Regions from separate parts of the Homo sapiens genome. Here region 1 is linked to region 2. Evidence: fine-mapped expression QTL. A gene starts in region 2. The other region holds a variant in brackets. All regions are shown on one strand. Distances are between the middles of the regions. Region 1 has its middle 24 kb from the start of KRT24. Region 2 holds the start of KRT222 (keratin 222).

The links.
Region 1: its variant is fine-mapped to the expression of KRT222 in tibial nerve (GTEx, PIP above 0.99).

The regions. Positions count from the first base shown.
Region 1 is chr17:40,726,465-40,729,386 of GRCh38, reverse strand. No RefSeq gene overlaps it. Among named protein-coding and RNA genes, the nearest start is that of KRT24, 24 kb to the right of the region's middle. The variant G/C (reference allele first, on the strand shown) is at 1,192.
Region 2 is chr17:40,663,609-40,666,530 of GRCh38, reverse strand. KRT222 (keratin 222) reads left to right here and starts at 1,354. Exons shown (of 6, transcript NM_152349.3): 1 at 1,354-1,527. The coding sequence starts at 1,432.

The DNA.
Region 1 (2,922 bases), 63 kb before region 2:
AAGATCGCTCCCCAACACTTTAGCCTGGGTAACAGAGCCAGACCCTGTCTCAAATATATATATATACAATTTACATTTATATATTATATATATTTATTTATATATTATATATAAGATGTATAATATATAACAATAATAAAATAGCTAAATAGAATAATTGATAAATGAATAGAATAATAAATTGAATAATAAAAGAATAATAAATAAGCAGAATAATGGAGTGATAGAAAAATTGTAAATGAATGAAGCAATAGCACCAACTTTTAACTGCTATGTTCATCATAAACAGCACAGTGAGTTTGAAATATTCATATTACCTTGTTATACAATATACAATATGAGCAACATGGGCATTACATGTATCCTTGTCCAAAATAAATTATTCTGAAGCTATCAACATTTCCATCTTTAATCTTTAAAATCTGTATCTTATAGCAGGAAGATGTGGTTCCAGTTTTTTCAGATATTTTAATACAATTTCCTCTTTGGATACAACACCAAAATCTACAAAGCCATGTAAGGAAGAATAATCTTCATCTTGTCAGTAAACAAATAAAAGTGCAGGTGTCTTGGATCTTTGTTCAAGCACTATCACTAACTCATTCGAGATCTTAAAGAAACCACTACTCTGAGTTAAGACTTTTTAAAATTAAGATTTTTGAATTTTAAAAGGAAGGAGGCCGGGCACGGTGGCTCATGCCTGTAATCCCAGCACTTTAGGAGGTCGAGGCGGGTGGATCACGAGGTCAGGAGATCGAGACCATCCTGGTTAACACGGTGAAACCCCGTCTCTACTAAACAAAATACAAAAAATTAGCCAGGCGTGGTGGCGGGCGCCTGTAGTCCCAGCTACTCGGGAGGCTGAGGCAGGAGAATGGCGTGAACCTGGGAGACGGACCTTGCAGTGAGCCGAGATCGCGCCACTGCACTCCAGCCTGGGCGACAGAGAGAGACTCCGTCTCAAAAAAAAAAAAAAAAAAAAAAAAAGGAAGGAATTCATCTGCCTTCCTTTAAGTTCTTCATCCCTTTCTAGATGGTAGAGAATTTCACTAAATTTGCCTGAAGTTACTGGACTTGATATCAGGGGGAAAAAAAATACACGTAATTTAATAGAAAACATTTGGGAAAATATTTTTATTTGAAACAATTTTAACCACTTTTCCAAAACACCAGCATCAAAACTGGGTTTAT[G/C]TAGAGTGCAAAATGGAGGTCAACGACACAGGCAATGCCCTGAAAACTTTCACAACTGCTGGCCTGGAAATGAATATGAAACCAAACTGAAGAAAGTGACTCACCACAGAAGGGAATCACGCCTCAATGCTTTTCCACCTCTCCTCCAAAACAATCATTTTCTTCAGGGTTTGTTTTAGGAAAAAAAAAAAATCAGAGAAAATAGAAGTATAGATTTTTCCTGTTTTAATGTAATCTTTTCTGTTCCTTTTGATTAGGCAATGAGATTGCGGAATAGTCTAGTAGTCATATAATTACTGTAAGGAATGCTGCCCCAGCTGCCGACCGGTCTTAATATTTGAATGTTGATAAACGTAACGCAACATTTTTGTCAAGCAAAACTATTAAGAAGCTAAAGAACAATTCAATTAATAGAGTAGCTAGTCAAATATATAAGTATAAATAAAATAGGGGTATATTTCAGAGCTCTGTTTTGCCAAGATGTTATAGCTCAGAGTAAGTCATGGCCAGCTCAGTTCTCCACTGAAGCAGCAAGATATGAGATCATGAAACTGAAAAACGTATTCTTCACACCCATGACACTGAGCTACAATCCCTAATAGCTAAGGTATGTGAGAGCAGCTGAATACAACCTCAAACTTAAATCAGAAAGAATCCATAGATAGGGTCTACATCTTTTTTTGTAAATAATTATATATAAAAATTTCAAAGATAAGCCCCTTAGAAAAGACATCAAATGGAACACCAAATGTACATAGAAAAATGGTGAGGACTATGACGGACCTTTCAATAGATGAAGTTAGGCTGACCTCCCGGTTTAGAAACATATGGTCTTATGGAATAACTAATACAGTACAAATGCAAGAAAACAGCAATAAAAATGATCAAACCTTATGCTTGAATATGGAATTACAATTTACAGAGTGCTCTGCGCTCTCCATTTGATGTGATAATCCTATGCCATGTGTAGGGCAGGAACTATTATCCTTAATTTTACAGGTGAAAAAACTATGGCTCAAGAAATCGAAGTTTCTAGATGAAGTTAAGGCTTCTTGGTAACTAGTAGAGTTCTACCACTAGAGGACTCTACTAGTTCTGACCCTAAATCCAGGCAGACTTCTGCAAATAATATGAGTGCATAGACCTGAGTTGGAATCTCAGTTCCAACACTTCCCAGATATCTGGCCCTGGGAAAGTCACTTCATTTCTTTAAGTTTTGTTGCAGGTTGACTCTCAGTGAGTAGATGCTGAGACTGAGTTTGAGGATCAAAAGTTATCCTAAGGAGTAATACTTATGAAAGGAAAAGGGAGAAAGCAAGACCAGGGAGGGTTTTAGTCTTTTGCAGGATAGTTAGCAGACTGATGCAGACCAAAGTCTCTGTCAGCCCCGTGAGAGTTCTGGAACAAAGATTGCCCATTGGCCCCTAGCATGCCCCAAAAATAAGTCATCACCATTTATCAACTGCATCAGATAGGCCCATTTTATTTTTTTATAATTTCAAGTGACTTTTACAAATAATATACAGAAGATATAAAAGATAGCACAAAACTAATTTATTTAAAATGTTAATATAAACTAAAACATAGAAAACCCAAATTTTTATTCTATAATTTTGTGGTTTGGAAGTATATATACCTAAAATGGGCAACATCTTTGAATGCATGTCATGCATGCCCCTGGAACATACCCATTCTGTATTTATGGATTCCAGATTTCAAATGCATCTGTAA
Region 2 (2,922 bases):
CTATAGATAATCAAGTTGTGACTGATGGGGAAGGTGCAGGAGGTAGGGAGGGGTGGGTCAGAAATAACCTGGAACCTCTCCTCTCACCAGGAGCTGTGGGTAGGACAGCTTTGTTTGGAGAGGGCTGTGAGAATGCCCAGCATAGACTGGCCTGGCCAGATGTGAGTTAATTCAGAAATTAAAAGAGCAGGACATGCATGCAAAGGCCCTGTAAGGGCTAGAACCCAGGTCTGATTATCTCCTGAACTGTGCTCCAGATACAATTCAGCCAAAGCCACTCCACAAATAACAATAATGATAGATCCACTCTCACGACATATTTCTGTCACATCTAGCAACCAGCTGGCAAGATTAAACCAGGAATTTAGAAGGGGAGAGAGAGAACGCAGAGGCAGATATGCAGGGGTAATACATGGAACACAAGCAAGTTGTCAAAGAGCCAGTCCCAGTGATGTCATACATCACTGAGCAACCTTGGGCAAGATGCCTCAACCTCTCTGGCCTCAGTCTTTTCATCTTTACAGGTTAGAAAATGTCAGGGATTGCAAGGATTGGATGGAATGATACGCCAAATACACCCTCCGAAGGGCTCAAGTGATTGCAACGATTGGATGGAATGGTACACTGACTACACCCTCCAAAGGACTCAAGGGTTCTTTTGGTGAATACACCAAAAGGTCTATTTCTTCATCCTTGTTAAAACTTTGGAAATGTTAACTCACAACTCTCATAGTCTACCAGCACTTATCTGCAACATTTTGAGAAAACTAAATATAATTTTCTTTTTTTTTTTTTTTTTTTTTTTTGGAGATGGAGTCTCACTCTGTCACCCAGGCTGGAGTGCAGTGGCTCAATCTCGGCTCACTGCAACCTCCACCTCCTGGGTTCAAGCAATTCTCCTGCCTCAGCCTCCCGAGTAGCTGGGATTACAGGCACCCACCACCACGCCCAGCTAATTTTTGTATTTTTAGTAAAGACAGGGTTTCATCATGTTGGCCAGGCTGATCTCGAACTCCCGACCTCAGGTGATCCACCCACCTCAACCTCCTAAAGTGCTGGGATTACAGGCATGAGCCACCATGCCCGGCAATTTTCTTATGTTATGCCCCATTTCCTTTTCACAAAAATGAACTCCCCCTCCCCTCAAAGTGCTCAATTTTTACAGGGAACCAGTACAGGTTTTTGAAATTTTCCTTTCCTTCATGAAGAATCTGACATTTCTACTATACCAATAACAATAGGAGCAAAGAGTTTACCCTGTATTTGCATAATTAGTTAGAAAGATGAGAATTTCCGTGGCCTCCGAAAAAGGAGCTCTGCATCTTTAAAACTCTGCGAGGCTCCCTGCCTTCCGCGCAGACCGAGCAGACTGCCGCAGCGACTCATCCTATCGATAAGGTTCAGTTAGCCAAGGTGGAGGATGGGAAAAGAATGGAACTGTCCCAGCTACTCAATGAGATCAGGGCAAACTATGAAAAGATCCTCACCAGAAATCAGATAGAGACGGTGCTCTCAACAAGGATCCAGGTAATGATTTCATACAGACAGGCACCTTCCAGAATAAGGAGACAGTCCATGTCTACCCAATTCCTGTCCCGGCCTCTCTGAGGTACAGTATTTCCTTTTCGATGCAGCATCTATTGGGGAAGGAATTTAGCTTCTACTGCAGTGTGACTGGGACTACAGGGGGAAATACTGTGATTATATTGTTAAATTGCCATTAAGTAAGTGTTGATTGATGCATTTGATTTTTATATAAATTGTGAGGTTCCTATCATTAACATGGGGTCAACATACCATAAAATGGTGCACTCTAACCTCTTACAATCTTCAGGAAGGAACCATTCCAAATACCCTTCAAAGATATTATTGGAGTTATTTACAGAGATAATTTAAATAACATCTTTAAAATGAAAAATCTTTAAGTAAGATTTATTAGCATGTACACTTTCTAGAGATATTTCTAAAAGGTTTCTATCATCTTTTTAACGAGTTCCATTTTATACCAGATTGTTATAAATAGAAATCATCTGAGTGTGTGAACATGGCATTCAGAAACAATGATATAAATTATGACCATTGAAATTCCCCAAATTGGTAACGATTCTCCACTAAGATTTTTGCTTCTGTACTATAAGATGAGAAACATTTCTTTCCATTACAAAGCTTGTAATATTTAAGTATTTAAAAAAGAGAAAGAGAGCCTACTTAGATAAGGACTAAATCCTAATTTCATAGACTTAGTTTTAAAGTAACAATCACCTTCAGCAAGTAATTAAGGTCTCAAGTCTTTAAACAAATTTACAAACAAATATTTTAGAAACAAAGATTAAGAAATTTAGGGGATTTTTTAGTTTACCTATCATATATGGGTTCAAGTTATCTTCCAAACCCTGAAATACAGCAAAAAGTTTACTTAAGAATATCACCCAAAATTTTAAAAAAAAAAATTGGTAGAAAAATGTCAGGCCTTTATTCCATTAGCCACTCATTTTTAGTTCCATTGTAAATTTCACCTCTAGATAACATTTTCAGCCTTCATAAAGAATGATCAACATCTTAGATTAAGCAAAGTCACTGGTACAGGTAAGCATTGGGATAGTTCATTCACCTTTACAAACAGAAGAAAAAAATCAATAGATGACAACTTCTAAAAATCATAAACAAAACACTTAACTTTGCAGTAGTAGAAATATGAGTTTAGTTTACAAGTCACAGGGCCAAAATGAGTAAATTCAAATGAAAAAGCAAGACTACGGTGAGTTTTGTTTAAAGTGTCTTTTAATTTGAAACTACTTTAGAGGATTTTCTTCCAAATAACTCAGAAAGTCAGCTGAAATAAATTCAAGACAGCCTGATTAGTTATTTTTTTAAATTTCTAAATAAGCTATTTTAGTTACAGATTGTTGTATAACACCCCAA